Linked DNA regions of Homo sapiens: region 2 is linked to region 1. Evidence: fine-mapped expression QTL. A gene starts in region 1. The other region holds a variant in brackets. All regions are shown on one strand. Distances are between the middles of the regions.

Region 1 (9,623 bases):
GCCCTTACGGCCACCTTACCTCAGACTCATAATCATCAGCGGGATAAGACATGGCTGCCTCGCTTGCGAGCACCGCCGGAAAGAGCGAAATGAGCGGCCCGCGCCTGCGTCCTGAGGCCGGAAGTTCAGCCCCACTCGGGCCTGCCGGGAAACCGGAAGCCTTTCCGAGGCCTCTGGCCATCTGAGACAGCCATATCCAGAAGGAAGAGGAGCCGCGTTCCGTGGCTCACACCTGTAACCCCACCAGTTTGGGAGGCCGAGGCGGGCGGATCACCTGAGGCTGAGGCCGGGGGTTTGAGACCAGCCTGACCAATATGGAGAAACCCCGTCTCTACTAAAAATACAAAATTAGCCGGGAGTGGTGGCGCATGCCTGTAATTCCAGCTACTCGGGAGGCTGAGGCAGGAGAGTCGCTTGAACCCGGGAGGCGGAGGTTGCGGTGAGCCGAGATCGCGCCATTGCACTCTAGCCTGGGCAACAAGAGGGAAAACTCCGTCTAAAAAGAATAAGAGGGTTACAAGTAGCCTGAATTTTCCTCTCTTCAAATAGGGACTTCTCAAAGAAGGTGAATCTATAATAGTGGTGTAGATTCAGATATAAGGACACGTATTTGGCGTAAAGGAGAGGCAAAGTTAGAGGAACCAGAAAGAATGCTACACAAAAGATGGCCGGCTTCTCGCGTGAAGGAAGATTCGGATACGGGGGCCTGATGGATTTAGTTGTAGGCGGTTTGCCTGCAGCGAGTAAATTATTCAAACGTTCGGACTTCACAAGACTAAACTTACTGGGGATAAAAATTGAGATTTGGCCGGGCGCGATGGCTCACGCCTGTAATCCCTACACTTTGGGAGGCCGAGGCGGGTGGATGATCTGAGATCAGGAGTTCGAGACCAGCCTGGCCGAAATGGCGAAACCCCGTCTCTATTAAAAATACAAAAATTAGCCGGGAGTGGTAGCGTCCGCCTGTAATCCCAGCTACTCAGGAGGCTGAAGCAGGAGAATCGGTGGAACCTGAGAGGCAGAGGCTGTAGTGAGCCGAGATCGCGCCACTGCACTCCAGCCTGGGCGACAGAGCAAGACTCCGTCTAAAAAAAAAAAGAAAAAAAAAAATTGAGATTTGGTCCCATGCAGTAAGAGGGAATGGAGAACAGGAGCCACCCAACTTTGGACATTAAAGTTGGAGCAGGCAAAGATGAGGCCAGCTGTGTCGCGAAGCCTGGGACATGGGCAGCTCTTGAGTACACCGGGTTCGAGGCCAGGGGAAACCCTCAAGGTAGAGATGGGGTTATAAAGCAAACCAATAAAAACCGGTGTATGAGTCAAGGAGAGGCCTTAGTTTAGCCATCTGCCCATACACAACACCTAGTGGAAATCCGAGTTCCAGTCCCTACTCCGCCACTGATTTGCTGTGTGACCAGGACTCTCTGGGTCCCTTTGTCACGCCGCCCTCCTTGCTTTTCCCACTGAGGCACGCTCCACCTCTGGGATTTTGCACTCACTGTTATCCAAGTCTAGAATCGAATGCAGTGGCACCCCCACTCCCATTCCCTTCCCCATCGGTATCTGCATGGCACCTTCAGGTGTCTGCTCTGATGCCATCCACTCAACATCCTATTGAGAATTGCAATGCCCAGCCCCAACTCCCTATGCTGCGTTCTTGTTTTGTGTTTCTTCCTTGTGCTGTCACCAGAGGTGACACAAATTTGGAAATAATGGAGCTTAAGCTTTACCGACCCTCGATTTGGTTCAGGACCTTCCCTGAACCAAGGAAGAGTCACAGTCTCTTCCTTGGTTCAGGGAGGGTCCCCAACAATGTCCTCATGGTCCTTTGCTTTTGTAAAATTTGTGAAATATTTTTATTGCTGAAACCACCTTTGCAAAAATTGTAACAGTGAGAAAATAATGACAGTGAAAGAGATCTGATCTAACCAACCCTCATCTTCCATTTAATCTTCAGACTGCCCTTAATCATTCCTGGCTCGAACCGAGCTAACTTTGGGAGACATTTAGTTTCTAGTTTAAATAATAACCCTTCTCCGAGGCCTGGCACAGTGGTTCACACCTGTAATCCCAGCACTTTGGGAGGCCAAGGCAGATGGATCACCTGAGGTCAGGAGTTCGAGACCAGCCTGGCCAACATAGTGAAACCCCGTCTCTACTAAAAATATAAAATTAGCCGGGCATGGTGGCATATGCCTGTAGTCCCAGCTACTCGGGAGGCTGAGGCAGGAGAATCACTTGAACCTAGGAGGCGGAGGTTGTGGTGAGCCAAGATTGCACCACTGCACTCCAGCCTGGGCAACAAGAGCAAAACTGCCTCAAAAAAAAAAAGAAAAAAGAAAAGAAATTGGCCGGGCGCGGTGGCTCACGCCTGTAATCCCAGCACTTTGGGAGGCCGAGGCGGGTGGATCATGAGGTCAGGAGATCGAGACCATCCCGGCTAAAATGGTGAAACCCCGTCTCTACTAAAAATACAAAAAATTAGCCGGGCGTAGTGGCGGGCGCCTGTAGTCCCAGCTACTTGGGAGGCTGAGGCAGGAGAATGGCGTGAACCCGGGAGGCGGAGCTTGCAGTGAGCCGAGATCCTGCCACTGCACTCCAGCCTGGGCGACAGAGCGAGACTCCGTCTCAAAAAAAAAAAAAAGAAAAGAAATTACCTGAAATCTTATAGTCCATATATGACAGGAATTTGATACAGGTTGCTCCAATTTGACAACAATTCTCAAAATGTTCATGACATTTGAGAAGGAGTTGTGAAGTCAGAAGATTTTCATGGGGCTGGATGTGGTGGCTCATGCCAGCACTTTGGGAGGCCAAGGTGGGAGGATCACTTGAGCTCAGGAGCTCAAGATCAGCCTGGGCAATATAGTGAGACCCCATCTTAAAAAAAAATTGGGGCCCAGGCACTGTGGCTCACTCCTGTAATCTCAGCATTTTGGGATGTGGAGGCAGGAGGATCCCTTGAGGCGAGGAGTTCAAGACCAGCCTGAACAAAAAAGTGAGACCATGTCTACAAAAAATCAAAAAAATAATTAGCCAGGCACGGTGGTACACATCTGTGGCCCCAGCTACTCAGGAGGCTGAGGTGGGAGGAAAGCTTGAGTGCAGTGAGCTGTGATCACACCACTGCACTCCAGCCTGAGTGACAGTGAGAGATCCTGTCTCAGCACTGTATCCATTATGGGGCAGACGAGGAGAGTACAAATAAACATAGCATTTTTTTCCATATAGTACAATGATAAACCTCACAATGGCGACTGCAAACACTGAAAATTCTGGAAGTGCTTTTCCAATTGTAAGAGAAAGATTACTTTTTTTTTTCTTTTTGAGATGGAGTCTTTCTCTGTCGCCCAGACTGGAGTGCAGTGGTGCGATCTCGGCTCACCGCAAGCTCTGCCTCCTGGGTTCACGCCATTCTCCTGCCTCAGCCTCCTGAGTAGCTGGGACTAAAGGTGCCCACCACCACACCAGGCTAATTTTTTTGTATTTTTAGTAGAGACGGGGTTTCACCATGTTAGCCAGAATGGTCTCAATCTCCTGACCTCGTGATCTGCCTGCCTCAGCCTCCCAAAATGCTGGGATTACAGGCGTGAGCCACAGCGCCAGGCCTTTTTTTTGTTTTTGTTTCTTTCTGAGATGGAGTCTCGCTCTGTCACCCAGGCTGGAGTGCCATGGTGCGATCTCAGCTCACCGCAACCTCTGCCTCCCAGGTTCAAGCTACTCTCCTGCCTCAGTGTCCTGAATAGCTGGGATTACAGGCGTGCGCCACCACACCCAGCTAATTTTTGTATTTTTAGTAGAAACGAGGTTTCATCATGTTGGCCAGGCTTGTCTTGAACTCCCGACCTTGTCATCTGCCCATTTTGGCCTCCCAAAGTGCTGGGATTACAGGCGTGACCCACCGTGCGGAAAGATTACATTTTAACTGGGTTGAGTGGGAGGGTTTATATATGGAAAGAACTTTTGCCAGGACACAAGACCTGGTCCGGTGAGAGCTGGGCAACTGTGAATGAGTCTCTTCCCTCTGCTTTTCAACTCCTCACCTATAAAATAGGGATGGTCCTTCTTGTCTACTTTATAGAAGTGCTTGTGGGGTACGGGATTGTGAGAAGTTTTATGAAAACGTGCACCCATGAAATGTTGCTTGAGGAACACTTATTTGTTTCCTGGTCTTCTCCCATTGGATTGTGAGCATCTCAGGGGCACCAAGTCTGATCCTGTGTCCAGGACCTAGCAGTTACCTGGCTCAGTGACTGGCTGTCGAACTAAACTATTGCTCTAATGTAATCACTTTGTATTACAAATCTTTGTAGATCAGTCATCTACGTCGGGGTTACCTAGAGAACTCTGACTAAAGGAAATCCATTGCATTTAGACACTATTACTCACAGTTTGTAGTGGTATCTCCAAATTTCAACACATTTTCCCTTTCCCACGTACATTATGCATTTGTGGGAAGTTCTTTTTTTTTTTTTTTTTTGCGTTCATTGATTTACAACATCTATATCTACATGGATGGCGTGGCTTCTTCATTTTCCTTTGTGAGTGCCTGCAAATCATCTTAATCTGATTTGCTAAGGTATCTGCTTGTTTTCTCATTAGACTGGGAAATGGAGAGGAAAAAGAAAAAAAAAGGCCGGGCGCGGTGGCTCACGCCTGTAATCCCAGCACTTTGGGAGGCCGAGGCCGGCACATCTCGAGATCAAGAGATCGAGACCATCCTGGCCAACATGGTGAAACCCCGTCTCTACTAAAAATACAAAAATTAGCTGGGCGTGGTGGCGCGCGCCTGTAGTCCCAGCTACTCGGGAGGCTGAGGCAGGAGAATTGCTTCAAGGAGGCGGAGGTTGCAGTGAGCCGAGATCGCGAGCCTGGCGGCAGAGCGAGACTCCGTCGCAAAAAAAAAGCGTCTGAAATGCTGTTTTACTGGCTCCGGTAGCGACGTACAGCGAAAGCCAAGGTCACTTCAAGTTTGTAATTGGTTACAATGTCTGTCAGTCACGTTGCCGGAAACCCTGTCCAATTATCCTGCTTGTACTGTGCCCTCCCTTTCCGATTGGTTTTGGGACCGGTTTAAGCTGGAAGGGTAGTCATTGGTTCGCCGCTCTGTCTCGGCCTGAGCCCGCCCCCGCTCGGTTGCCGTGGTTGCGGGCCCTGCCCGCCCGCCAGCTCGCTGACAGCACGACTCAGGGCGGAGGGAAGTAGGTCCGTTGGTCGGTCGGGAACGAGGCTCAGGCGGCCAGGCCCGCGCGGAGCCGTTGCCATGGCAGCCGCCGCCGGGGACGCGGACGACGAGCCGCGCTCAGGCCACTCGAGCTCGGAGGGCGAGTGCGCGGTGGCGCCGGAGCCGCTGACTGACGCTGAGGGCCTCTTCTCCTTCGCTGACTTCGGGTCTGCGCTGGGCGGCGGCGGCGCGGGCCTCTCGGGCCGGGCGTCCGGCGGGGCCCAGTCGCCGCTGCGCTACTTGCACGTCCTGTGGCAGCAGGATGCGGAGCCGCGCGACGAGCTGCGCTGCAAGATACCCGCTGGCCGGCTGAGGCGCGCTGCCAGGCCCCACCGGCGGCTCGGGCCCACGGGCAAGGAGGTGCACGGTGAGCGGCGCGAGCGGCGCGGGGGCCCGGGGCGGGGCAGCCCGGGCGAGGGGCGGGGCCTCAGAGGACCAGTGGCCGCGCTTTGGTCGCCCCCGACCCTCAGCCGGGGTCCCCCGACGTCTGCGCTGAGGGCCACACTGACCCTTGAGTCTCCTTTCAGTAACGATGGTGATGATGGTTTTTTTAGAAAGTCTTCCTGCTCTGAGCCAGTCACCCCAGTCTTCTCTCACTGGGTAATTTCTGAATGGAAACTTCCCATGACTCGGAACGCTTATTGGTGAATAATAAAATGAGGTACTGGGGAACACTTTTATTATCATGGAGAGGGGAGGCCAGAGCCTGCAGCCAAGTCGTACCAGCTTGTTTAAATGCACGGACTTGGACTCCTTTACCACAGTTAGACCTTAGGGCAAATGATAGACCCTTTCAACCTTAGTTTTCTTTTTAAATTTTTTTATTTTTATTTATTTATTATTATTATCTTTTTGGAGACGGAGTCTCGCTCTGTTGCCCAGGCTGGAGTGCAGTGGCGCCATCTTGGTTCACTGCAACCTCCGCCCCCCGGGTTCAAGCGATTCTCCTGCCTCAGCCTCCCGAGTAGCTGGGGTTACAGGCGCCCACTACCAAGCCCGGCTAATTATTGTAATTTTAGTAAAGATGGGGTTTCACCATGTTTGCCAGGCTGGTCTCGAACTTCTGATCTCAGGTGATCCACCCACCTCGGCCTCCCAAAGTACTGGCATAACAGGCATGAGCCACTGGCCCGGCCTCAGCCCTAGTTTTCTCATCTGTAAAATGGGATGAGTTAAGTAAGGTAATGGATGTTTAGCTGTTATGCTGCCTTTGCTGTGCCCCAAACACTGCTGATACATGATCATCTGTCCTCACAAGAACTCTTTGAGACATAGAAATTGTTCCCACTTTACTGAAGAGGAAACTGAGGCTCAGAGAAATTGTCTTATTCCAGGTCACATAGCAAGTGGCTGTTGCTGGTATTAGAATCCGGGTCAGCCCGACTCAAACTTCTCCTCTGGTATATCTACCATATTGTCTTCTACAATGCATGGGTGACATGGAAACCCAGGCACTGAGAGATTAAGAATGGGGACTTTGGGGATTTCTTCCAGGACTGGCTATGACTCTAGCCATATTTTAGTGATGTCACGAAGATGAAATAAGAATTTGGAAGCGTTGTATTGACCATAAAGTGCTGTATGAAAGCAAGGAATTGTCATGTATCTGAATTGCAATTTTTGACCATATCTCCGATGACAAAGACATTGCTTTCCATTAGCCATTGGAGGGGGAAAATCTGCTTAGGAAATACCAAATTTAGGCAAATCATTTGGGAACGACCTGCTTTGAAGGAGAATATAAGATTATCTGTGTAACCAGCTCACAAAGAGCTTCTGTGTAAATCATTTGCAATAACTCGGGGCTGGCAGAACAACTCAGCCTTGTTTTGCAGATGATAGACCTGAGGCCCAGCTGGGTTAACTAGCTTGCTCAAGGTCACCCTGTGACTACAAGTGATAGAGAGGAAATCTGGCTCCAAAAGTCTTGGAGGATTTGCAGGAGGATGTGGCCTTTGTACTAGCTCCGCCTCATTTCAAGTTTCTCCTTGTTCCCAGGGCACTGTCTTTCTTTTCTTTTTTTGAGACGAGAGTCTCGCTTTACCACCCAGGCTGCAGTGCAGGTGGTGCAATCTCGGCTCACTGCCTCAGCCTCCCAAGTAGCTGGGACTACAGGCCCGCACCACCACACCCAGCTAGTTTTTGTATTTTTAGTAGAGATGGGGTTTTACCATGTTAGATTGATTTAAGTTAGAACTTAACCTAAGATTGAGAAATATTTTTTCTTTCTTTTTTTTTGAGATGGAGTGTTGCTCTGCCACCCAGGCTGGAGTGCCATGGTGTGATTTTGGGCTCAAGTGATTCTCGTGTCTCAGCCTCCCAAGTAGCTGGGATTACAGGCATGCACCACCACACCCGGCTAATTTTTGTGTTTTTATTTTATTTATTTATTTATTTATTTATTTATTTATTTATTTATTTATTTATTTTGAGACAGAGTCTTGCTCTATTGCCCAGGCTGGAGTGCAGTGGCGCGATCTTGGCTCACTGCAACCTCCGGCTCTCAAGTTCAAGTGATTCTCCTGCCTTAGCCTCCTGAGTAGTTGGGATAACAGGCATGCACCACCATGCCTGGCTAATTTTTGTATTTTTAGTAGAGAAGGGATTTCACCTTATTGGCCAGGCTGGTCTCAAACTCCTGACCTCGTGATCCACCCACCTTGGCCTCTCAAAGTGTTGGGATTACAGGCGTGAGCCACTGTGCCCGGCCTATGTTTTTTGTGTGTGTGTGTGTGTGTGTGTGTGTTTGTGTGAGACAGAGTCTCACTCTGTTGCCCGAGCTGGAGTACAGTGGCACAGTCTTGGCTCACTGCAACCTCTGCCTCCTGGGCTTAAGCGATTCTCCTGCCTGAGCCTCCCAAGTAGCTGGGATTGTAGGCGTGCACCCCCATGCCCAACTAATTTTTTGTATTTTAGTATAGACAAGGTTTCACCATGTTGCCCAGGGTGGTTTCAAACTCCAGAGCACAGGCAATCTGCCCACCTCAGCTTTCCAACGTTCTGGGATTACAGGCGTGAGTCACCACGTATGGCTAGTTTTGTATTTTTAGTAGAGATGGGGTTTCAGCATGTTGGCCAGGCTGGTCTTGAACTCCTGGCCTCAAGTGATCCACCTGCCTTGGCCTCCCAAAGTACCGGGATTATAGGCATGAGCCACTGCGCCCAGCCATTGTGGCTTTTTTTTTTTTTTTTTTTCCTGAGACAGTCTCACTTTGTTGCCCAGGCTGGAATGCAGTGGCGTGATCTCATCTCACTGTAGCCTCCGCCTTCCGGCTTCAACCCATTCTCCTACCTCGGCCTCCTAAGTAGCTGGTGTTACACGTGCACACCACCACACCCAGCTAGATGGCTGGGTTTTTTTTGTTGGTTTTTGTTGTTTTTGTTTTTTTCTGAGACAGCGTCTCACTCTGTCACCCAGGCTGGAGTGCAGTGGCGCGATTTTGGCTTACTGCAACCTCCATGTCCTGGGTTCAAGTGATTCTCCTACCTCAGCCTCCAGAGTAGCTGGGATTACAGGCATGTGCACCACACCCGGCTAATTTTTTTGTATTTTTAGTAGAGATGGGGTTTCACCATGTTGTCCAGGCTGGTTTTGAACTCCTGGCCTCAAGTGATCCACCTGCCTCGGCCTCCCAAAGTGCTGGGATTACAGACGTGAGCCATCATGCCCAGCCAATGGCTGTGTTTTTTTTGTGTGTGTTTGTTTGTTTGTTTGTTTTGAGACGGAGTCTCACTCTGTCACCCAGGCTGGAGTGCAGTGGCGCGATCTCTGCTCACTGCAAGCTCCACCTCCCAGGTTCACGCCATTCACCCGCCTCAGCCTCCCGAGTAGCTGGGACTACAGGCACCTGCCACCACGCCCGGCTAATTTTTTTGTATTTTTAGTAGAGATGGGGTTTCACCATGTTAGCCAGGATGGTCTCGATCTCCTGACCTTGTGATCTGCCTGCCTTGGCCTCCCAGAGTGCTGGGATTATAGGCATGAGCCACCGCACCCAGCCATGGCTGTTTTTTTAAACTGGCATCCGTTACTCTCTTTACAGCTCTGAAGAGACTGAGGGACTCGGCCAATGCCAATGATGTGGAAACAGGTGAGTGTGCACAGTAGGTCCAGCTACAGGGTCCCATGGGCTGGTTGGGGAAGGAAAAGGCCAGGTAATCAATATGTGGGAAGGCAGTCTGCAAACTCACGCCCTTGGAGCAGGCTCACTGTATTTATTGTCTGACTGTGCAGTCATCTTGCTGAAGGTAAGTCTGGCTTAGACACTCACTCTCCCCATGCTCCCCTGTCACTTTGAACTTCCTGATGTCATAGCATTTACCACCCTGTGGACTCCTTGATGGTGGAGACCATGTATACTTTTGTATCCCTGGCAGCCAGCACAGTCTTCTGCAAAGA
Region 2 (9,381 bases), 700 kb after region 1:
GGAGATGGGAAGGGCAGTGGGGGTTGGAGGGGTGGGGATTGTTGTTGGGTACGAAAACAGAATTAGATCGAATGAATAAGATCTAGTATTTGATAGCATAACAGGGTGACTTTAGTCAACAATAATTTATTGTACATTTAAAAATAACTAAAAGAGTATACTTGGATTTTAACACAAAGAAAGGATAAATACTTGAGGTGATGGATACCCCATTTACCCTGATGTGATTATTATACATTGTATGCCTGTATCAAAATAGCTCATGTGCCTCATGAATATAGACACCTACCACATGCCCACAAAATTAAAAACTAAAAAAAACAGTCATCTCTGAATGCTAAACGGAGTAAGGGGCTTCCTGGAAGGCTGGGTGAAATGGGAGTCTCGGAAAGATGGTGTGTTGCAGGCTGGGAGGAGGGTGAGACGCTGGGGTCACCTAGAGGGACCTGCTTGTGTGAAGCCTACGTATTAGTGGGTATGTGTGTGACCGGATGGAGGCGTCAGAGGTGTTGGGTAGCCTGTGTGAGTTGGCGTGGGGGTGATGTAGGAGGGGAGAGAGGGAGGGCCTGCGTTCCCTTGGCTCCTGTGTGCAGCTAGGCCCCTATTTGACAATGTGTGTCTGTGTGTGTGTGTGTGTGTGTGTGTGTGTGTGTGTGTGTGTGTGCCGCCCCCAGCGTAGGAGGCAGATCTTTATCTGGCCCTGGGTGCTTGAGGAGTTTCAGGCTTTCTCATAAGCCTCGTCTCCCCGCCTCTCCACCCCAGGCCTTGCCCCTCTATCCTCTGCACAGGAAGTGGGCTGGCTCTGGGCTTTTAGTCTTTGCGGCCCCAGCAGCCAGAGCTCAGCAGGGCCCTGGAGAGATGGCCACGGTCCCAGCACCGGGGAGGACTGGAGAGCGCGCGCTGCCACCGCCCCATGTCTCAGCCAGGTGATGTCCCCCTGCCTCCCTCCCGGCCCCTGTGGACCAGCCAGAGGGCTGGGAGTGAAAGTCACAGAGAAGACTTTCAGCTCTGACTCAGTTCCCCCAGCAGTTTCTGCCTGAACTCCCATCCCCCAACTTTGTCTTAGAATTCCCCTAGGGAGGGGTTGGGCCCAGCTCTCATGGCTCCTGGCTGGAGGAAAAAGCGGTCCCCAGTCCCAGGTCAGCTCTCCTTCCCAACCCATTCAGGGGAGGCTAGGGACTGCTGTGGGATGAGGGGCTTCCCTGGGCTCTGTGTGCTGGGCCCCCAACCCGGAGAGGTGGAGAAGGGATGGGTGGATAGCCTGGGTGCCCGGAGAGGGTACGGGATATGGGGTGGGACAGGCGGGAGCCCCCTCCTGACCTCTGTGGAGTGGGGCCCATATACCGGGGGAGGCAGCCCTGTGTTGCGTGCTCATCAGGAGGCTTGTGGAGTAAGTGGGGACAGAAGGGTCCCCTTGGAGAGCCATCTATGAAGTGAAGTTGCTGCGAGGCCTCTGGGAGCCCCAGGCTGGAGGCAGAGCCCTGGGTTTGAGTCTGGGTTTGTCCCTCCCTTGGCTGCATGACTGGACAGGTCAGAAGCATCTCCGGACATTGGGGATGGGACCCTATCTTTGGGGCTGCCTGGAGCTCATGCTCTCTCCTCTCCTGGGGGCCGAAGCCTCCCACTCTTAACTGTGTTTGTAGCACCTCGGGGGAGGGAGGTGGAGTGAGGAGCTGAGCTATCCCCAAGGGTCCCCTTCCTTCCCCCACAGCCAGGGTCCCGCACCCAGCTGGAGAAGCCCCTGAAGTTAAATAGCAAGAGACAAGCACTGTGTATGGGAGCAGGGGGGTGGCAGGTGGAGGTGGCCAGAGAGGACGAGGGGACATAGGCCCCATTGAGTTCAGAGGTCAAGTTGGATGAACCATGGGCTCCCGAGCTCCTGCTTTACCACCCTGCCCCAGCCACCATATACCCCTGATGGCAGCAGGGGCCCCGAACTGCACCTGACCAGGTTCAAATCCCAGCTCTATGCCCTTCTCGCCTGGGTGAGAGGTTGACCCGTTTCTTAGTCTCCTCATTTGGCAAAAAGGAGGCATACTAGAGCCTCCTCATGGGGCTGTAGGGAGGGCTAAAAGCTGAACTACCCCCGAGCGCTCAGGGCAGGCAGTGTAGGCAGAGAGAGAGCAGGCACCAGTCCCTGTCCCCAGCAGCATCTCTCTGAAAATCAGATGGCTGGGGTCAGCCGCTCCGGGCTTCAGTTCTGGCATGGATCAAATGGGGCAGCAAGACCCACCTTGCAGGGCTGTGGTGGGGACGTAGGCATCCGTGGGTGTGACCAGTTTCAGAGTCATGAACGACAGGGCACGTGTGGGTGTGCCTGAGGACCCAGGAGGGGGTGCTCAAACTCGAGGTCCTGGGCTCCACTTGCTGTCACCCGAGGCTGGGCTTCTCCTCACCGTGCAACCTTAAGTGGGTTCCTTGGCCTCCCTGAGGCACAGCTTCCCCATTGCAGAATGAGGGTGCAGCCTCAGTGACTGCCAGGCGCTCCCTCAGCTCTGTGCCCCTCTGGCACCCCCACACCATCCTCCCGTGGACTCTGCCCTCTCCGAGCATCGCTGCACCTCTGAGCTCCAGGCGGCGGGAAGCAGACTCCAGATGGCGCTTTCTCCTCCTGCCCGGCTGCCTCTAGGCTGGGCCTGTGGTTTACCCCTAACCTTCCTTTGACCTTGCACCCCTTTGTCCCTCAGCACCTTCCTCACACACTGGGGCTCTCTGCAGTTCCTGTCCTGGGCATGGGGTCATCCTGAGGCTGGGCCCGACCTGGGGTGACACCCACACAAAACATTGATGGTCCCCTTGCCCCAGGGCCAGGTTGGCATGATTGAGCGTGAAGGGGCATAGGGGCTATGGGAGTCCCCTGGTTGGGCTATGCACTCTTTGGGGTCCCAACCCTGTGCCCTCTGCTATTGGGGGATCCCAAGAAAGAGGTGAGCAGCCCCCACCCTGGGGAGCTCACCCTCCTGTGGAGACGGTAGGCCAGGCAAAGGCGAGCCCATGGTACCCCGAATAAGCACCTGCCAGTCTGTCTGTGAGCTGCTGGGTCCTGACTCCCAGGACAGAGAGGGTGGCAGCCTTACCTCTGGGACCAGTGTCTGGCAGGGTGGGACAGCATGAGAGAGTGAGCCTGGAGCCCTAGCTCCACCTCTTACTGTGTTTATGACCCTGGGCAAGTTAGGGGCTTGGAGCCTTAGTTTCCTCATCTGTAGAATGGGATAATAAAGCCATTGGGCAGCTTAGACGAGCTGGCATATGTGAGGCACTTGGCCCCAGGCCTAGCATAGAGTATGTGCTCAGTACACAGAACGAGTATTATTAGTTCACCAGTGCATATTTACTGTCGTGTGAGCTGTCGTGGTGGGAAGATGCGTCTGGGGAGTTCCAGGAGGGGAGGATCCCTGCCTGGGCACTGGGCAGTCTGCCCTGACTCAGATTCCAGAAAGGCCTCTTATCCACTGCATGACCTTAGGCAACGCACTTCACCTCTGTGTGCCTCCGTTTCCTCATTGGAAAATGGGGATAATAAGAGTATCCCCGCCAGAGGCCCTGATTGCTGCATTTAAAGAGTTTTAAATGGAGCCTGGCTTACAGTAACCTGTCAGCCGATGGTTTTGGTGTGACTAAGGGGGTGGCAGAGCGGCGTGGAGTTGGGTTCTGATCCCAGCTCTGTGCTGGGCTCCTGATGTAACCTTCAGCAAGTCTTTCCCACTTCGGGACCTCAGTGTTCTCAAATGTAGAACAAGGGACTGTGCTTGCTCAGAGAGCCTTTGCAGCTTTGACAGTGCGTGGGCCTCTGACTCTCACTCCTGTGACATCTGCCTTAGGAGATGGAACCCATGGCTCTTGGGGCCAGGGTGTGTGTCCCTGCTCCATGCTGGCTCTGATGTAAGCCACGAGACAATCCAGGGCCACCTAAAGAGCTCTGCTTTTTTTTTTTTGCCGTACTGAGGCCTCTGACCACACTCATTCATTTCACTACATTTATTGAGCACCGACTGTGTGCCCGGCCCTGTGCTCAGCAGTCCCTGGAGCGAGTGTGCTGGTGGGCCAGCCCCTGGTCAACGCCGGCCCTGCTGCTGCCAGCCTAGAGGGAGGAGCAAGGCGCTCAGAAGAGGAAGCCCTCGCCCTCCATCACGGAAATCAGGGAAGGCTTCATGGAAAAAGGCATGAGGGCCCGTTTGAAATGGGCTTGAAGGATGGCAGGATCTGTAGGGGACCCAGGGAAAGGATAGACTTGGGAAGGACCTTTGGAGGGTGAGTGTCGGTTTCCTGGTCACCTGGAGCCACTGGCTTGTGCAGGCAGGTAGGTGCGGTGTGTGTGTGCTTTGGCCTGGGTACATGCACCTGCTCCTGTGAGGGCAGGGTCTGGAAGGGTGGGCTGACCTCATTCCGGTCCCAGAAAGCCTCGAAAATGGGAATTTAGGCTTTGATTGCAACAGGGCCACTGCAGGTTCCTGGGCAGGGATGTGGGTGGTTGGAGGCGGGCTTCAGGGAAGGCAGGTGAGAGCCTGCAGATGGGGTGGTGCCGTTGTCTGGGCTGGAACGGCACGAGGCTGGCCTGGTGAGGGTGGGGAAGAGACAACAAGTAGTCACTGGAGTGTCCTGCTGTCTGAGGAGAGTCCTGACTGGCTAGGTATGGGGGCAAAGGTCACCTGGAATAGGAAGGGTACAGTTGTCCCAGAACTGAAAGTCAGACAGGAGAAGAGCTGGGGATGAGCTGGGTTTTTGCCGGGTCCAGGAGCATCCCCTGTGAGGGGGTCCTGCAGACCATCGGGAGGGACGTGGAGGCTTGGGGCTGAGCTGGAGAAAGACCCTGGGAAGCTGAGGGCTGGAGCCAGTGAGAGGCTCAAGAGAGAGAAGGGAAGGGGAGTGAGAGCTCGAGTTTGGAGCCGCTGGAGAAGGGGGAACAGCGGGGGAAATGCCCAACGCTCAGGAGCCTTGGAAGCTCTCGAGATGGAAGAGCAGGAGGGAGGGAAGGATGTTCCACCTCCTCCACATCTCTTGACTCACCTGCTCCTCTCCCCTCTCCCCCTGCCCCTCTGACTGAGGCTACCCTCATCTTTCCCTGGAAGCTCCCTCCTCATCTCCCTGCCTCCCCCTTTGCCTGCTCCAAACACCTCTCCTGGAAGCAGTCCCCTTATCTTCCCGAAGTGACCATGTGCTCACTTTCTCATTCCCCTCCGCACACCCAGCCCCTGCAGAGGGTGGGGGCAGCTACTTTTCTTTCCCATTTCCGCTGCGACAGTTGTGGTCTTGCCTCACGGGAGCTTCCACGGTTGGCTAGAGGTTCCCTGAGAAGCAAGTCTTTGTCTCAAAAAAAAAAAGTAAATAAATAAAGCACTGGCCAGTGGCCAGTGCATAATAGGCACTCCGGGAAAACTTTTGAGCCTCCCTCTGACAGGGCTGGCTTAGAGATTTCATGTCTCTTTCCTCCCTGGGGTATAATCTGGGTGACCAACCTGGCCCTGCCTCCAGGGAGCTTCCAGGCAGGTAGGGGAGTACGAGTGTGGACAAGGTCCTCCGTAAAGGCTACTGCAGCCCTCTGTGCCTCAGTTTCCCCTGTCCTCTAGGGCTCTTCAGTGTTTGGGTCAGAGCTCCTATCTGCTTTTCTGCTTTTCCGAGTTCGCGTCCTGATGCCTTCACACCATTGCCTCAGCTCCCTCGAGGGACAGTGAGGGGCAGAGGCAGGGGCTAGCCTCAGAGCCCTCTGGAAGCCCCTCTACCTGCTGACTTTAGCTCTGTCTATATTTATTCCATCACTTGTTTGTTCAAGAATTTTTTTTGGCCAGATGCCTACTATGTGCCAGGCACTGTTCTAGGAATTGTGGACCTAGCAATGAACAAAACACAAAAATACCTGTCCTTAGTGAGCTTACGTGACTCTGTGTGTGTTTGTGAAGAGAGATAGAGGAAAACATGAATCAGTCAATAAACGATGAATAAATAATGCTATGATGAAAATGTAGGGGGGTGGTGAGTAACAAAGGGTGCTTCTTTTATTTTTTTCTTTGAGACAGAGTCTTA[C/T]TCTGTCGTCCAGGCTGGAGTGCAGTGGTGCCATCTCGGTTCACTGCAAACTCCGCCTCCAGGTTCAAGCAATTCTCCTGTCTTAGACTCCCGAGTAGCTGGGACTACAGGCACCCACCACCTTGCCCGGCTAATTTTTGTATTTTTAGTAGAGACAGGGTTTCACCATGTTGGTCAGGCTGGTCTCAAACTCTTGACCTCAGGTGATTCGTCTGCCTCGACCTCCCAAAGTGCTGGGATTACAGGCATGAGCCACACGCCTGGCCACGACGGGTGCTTCTTTATGTAGTCTAGTCAAAGAAGACCTCTCAAAGGAGGCTGCAGTTGAGCAGAAACTTGAAGGAAGGGTGTGAGCATGTGTAGGGTGGTGGGATTAGCAGGTGCAAAGGCCCTGGGGCTGGACTGAGCTGGCACCGAGGAGTGCAGACCATGCACACTGAGGGGGCGGGCCCAGCCTGCCTCTAGGGGCAGCGAGGCCTGGGATGTGTATTTACGTGTGCTCTCTCTTTCTCCTCTCCCACCAGGGCTTCCTTCCTCGGCTCCACCCTGTGGATGTAATGGCGGCCCCTGCTCTGTCCTGGCGTCTGCCCCTCCTCATCCTCCTCCTGCCCCTGGCTACCTCTTGGGCATCTGCAGCGGTGAATGGTGAGGACCCTGACATCTGAACAGCTCTGCTTTCCCTATGGAGAGATGGCTAAGGCCCTGCTAAAGCCTCTTCCCAGAAGGGGATGGGGCCAGAGACCAGGTGTCCACCTCCTGCCTCACCCTCTGTCCTGGACCCCTGCCCTGGCATGCATGCATGAATGCGCGCACACACACACACACACACACACACACACACACACGCCTCTCCAAGCCACAGGCTTGTGCTACTTTCTGTCCCTGCCTTGCCTTAGTTTGCCTGTAGGAACTTGCAGGCTCTGGAGCTCCATTTCCTCCTCTCTGAAGTGGGTCCATGAATCCCTTCTCCGCTTGCCAGAGTTACCCACCTCCTCCTCTGGCAGGTGTGGGTGCCAGGTGCAGGGGCAGTGGGCGTGTCTTGGGGGGGCTGTGGGCACCTACAGTCAGCACTCACACCTCATCTTGCCCGGCAGGCACTTCCCAGTTCACATGCTTCTACAACTCGAGAGCCAACATCTCCTGTGTCTGGAGCCAAGATGGGGCTCTGCAGGACACTTCCTGCCAAGTCCATGCCTGGCCGGACAGACGGTGAGTCCACTGGCCACACTGCAGAATCTTAGGATGGTGGGATCTCATATTCTGGATCCTATGCACTGGACTCCAAGGAGTCAACGTTTACAGAATCTTGGACTAATGGGACCCACAGACTTTTTGAATCACAGGAGTTGGGGCCCAGGCCTGGAATCAAGGGATCGTTTAAGAGAATTTGGGAGTCAGCTATTTAGACTTCTAGAACCTGGGTGGAGTCCAGGCTGCAGTGGAGGGGCTGGGGATGAACTGGACAGGGTAGTTTGGGGACACTGAGCTGCAAGCCTGCTATGCCAAGGCTGGACTCCACTCTAGAGGCAAGCAGAGAGGAAGTGGGGAGAAAGGAGGGTCCCCAAGCTTTTTGGATAAGCTCGGATTTTGAGAGACCCTGTAGGCAGCTGTGGGGACAGGGAACCTGGGAGTGGTTTGGGTGCCTGGTGGATGGGAGAGAGATGTCACTGTGATGTAAACATCCAGGCGGCCAGTGAGTGAGGGACTGACCCCAGGTAGGCTTGATGGGGTCAGGGAGAAGAGGAAGACCACAGAGAGGTGGCTGGGCCCAGGTGGATTCCATAGGGTGTGGGGTGGGGGAAAATGGGGAGGGAGATGGAGGGGTAAGGCAGGTTCGGGCCCTGGCTTCTGGGTGGGTGGTGATTCCACACGGCTCTGAAGGCCTAATTAAGGATCTATCTTCATCCTAAGCCTCATGGAGCTTTGGAGGGCTCTAGGTGGGGAGGACTGCCTGTCTTGAAGTGGTTTGTGTTTCTAGATCACTCCAGCTGCCGTGGGACCAGGCTGGGATGAGGGAGCAGGACAAGGTGCCCATGAGGGAGGAATGCCATGGAGCCAGTGGGGGAGGCAGTGCCCCTCACAGTGGTTGGCACAGGGGCCCCAGCCTGGCCTTGCTGCCTGGTGCCATCCTGGCAGCAGAGAGATCTGAGAAGAGTCCCTTGGGCCAGCTGTGTGGGTCCTTCCTGTTCTTCTAAAGAGGGTCTTTTGCCATGAAAGGCGGTGGAACCAAACCTGTGAGCTGCTCCCCGTGAGTCAAGCATCCTGGGCCTGCAACCTGATCCTCGGAGCCCCAGATGTGAGTAGCCCACCCAGGGAGAGAGTGCAGGGAGAGGGTGGTCTCCCAGCTCCGGGCTGCGATCTCAGGGTGGGCCGGATGCCAGGGGAAGAGCTGAGGCCCAATGGCTGGGGCTGTGGCTAAGCAGGATGCCCAGCGCTGAGCAAGAGGCAGAGAAAAACAGGTGACACCCCAGGGAGTGGACTCAGGCCTGCCCCAGGGCCGACGGACCCTCTGTATGTGAGGCATCTGCCATTCTGCCTCTGCTCCTGCTGTCTCCCCTGCGCTTTGTGGGTCCTGTGACACTTGTGTTCCTTATCAAGTAAGACAGCACTCCAGTAACTGTAATGACCACACCCAGCTCTTCCCGGGGGCTTGGCAGTGCAGTGCAGTGTGGGGGGTGAAGGGTGTAGACTCTGGAGCTGGATGCTCCAGCCCTGGCTCACCAGCTGGGTGACATTGGGCAACCCCTGTGCCCCAGTCTCCCCTTCTGTAAAATGGGCATAATAATGGCACCTACCTTGTTGGGTCAAGGCCCAACAAGGGCCTTGTTTTTCAGGCCCTCCCCAGCCTGAAGGTGGGACCTCACCAGGGACCCGCCTCCTTCTGCCCAGGCTGCTCGGGCCAAGGGGCACCTGCAGGCCAGTGCCAAGCTGTCCCCTGCACCCCCGTGGCTTCCCATCCCCCTGTGCTCATTGGTGCCTAAAGTCCAGAGGGGGCCGAGGCAGCTGGGGCCAGTGAGTCAGTGCTGCCTCGAGCGTGCCAGGCTGTGGTAGTGCCTGGGCTTGGTCCCGCTCTGAGATTGGAGTGGGCACTGGAGCAGGAGGAGGCCAGACAGTGGGAGCAGACACCCCTGAGCTTGTGGGGGCAGTAGAGATGCCTGGGTCCTGGCTTGGGCAGCTGCAGCTGCCCCAGGAGAGCTCCTGGCTACCTCGGAAGGGGCAGGGGTCCCGCTTGTCCCCGACTCACACTGGATCCACAGAGTGCGTAGCCCCGACTGTGCCTCCAGGATCAGATCGGGTGCCAGAAGCAGGGGAGAGGCCAAGCAGTGGGAACAGACAGCTCTGAGCCTGCGGAGGCAAGGG

What was found. PIP is the estimated chance that this variant, and not a neighbour inherited with it, causes the effect.
Region 2: its variant is fine-mapped to the expression of ANKRD54 in esophagus muscle (GTEx, PIP 0.98).

Annotation. Positions count from the first base shown.
Region 1 is chr22:37,839,879-37,849,501 of GRCh38, reverse strand. It overlaps ANKRD54 (ankyrin repeat domain 54), which reads left to right and starts at 5,168. Exons shown (of 8, transcript NM_138797.4): 1 at 5,168-5,591; 2 at 9,268-9,315. The coding sequence starts at 5,264. It overlaps MIR658 (microRNA 658), which reads left to right and starts at 5,131; the gene lies at 5,131-5,230. MIR659 (microRNA 659) reads left to right here and starts at 1,728; the gene lies at 1,728-1,824. It overlaps EIF3L (eukaryotic translation initiation factor 3 subunit L), which reads right to left and starts at 83. Exons shown (of 13, transcript NM_016091.4): 1 at 20-83. The coding sequence starts at 52. RefSeq lists enhancers at 1-441, 442-964 and a silencer at 4,998-5,697.
Region 2 is chr22:37,141,370-37,150,750 of GRCh38, reverse strand. IL2RB (interleukin 2 receptor subunit beta) reads left to right here and starts at 835. Exons shown (of 10, transcript NM_000878.5): 1 at 835-926; 2 at 6,546-6,666; 3 at 7,116-7,230; 4 at 8,239-8,317. The coding sequence starts at 6,579. RefSeq lists enhancers at 465-576, 659-690, 773-795, 2,499-2,548 and a promoter at 1-925. The variant C/T (reference allele first, on the strand shown) is at 6,022.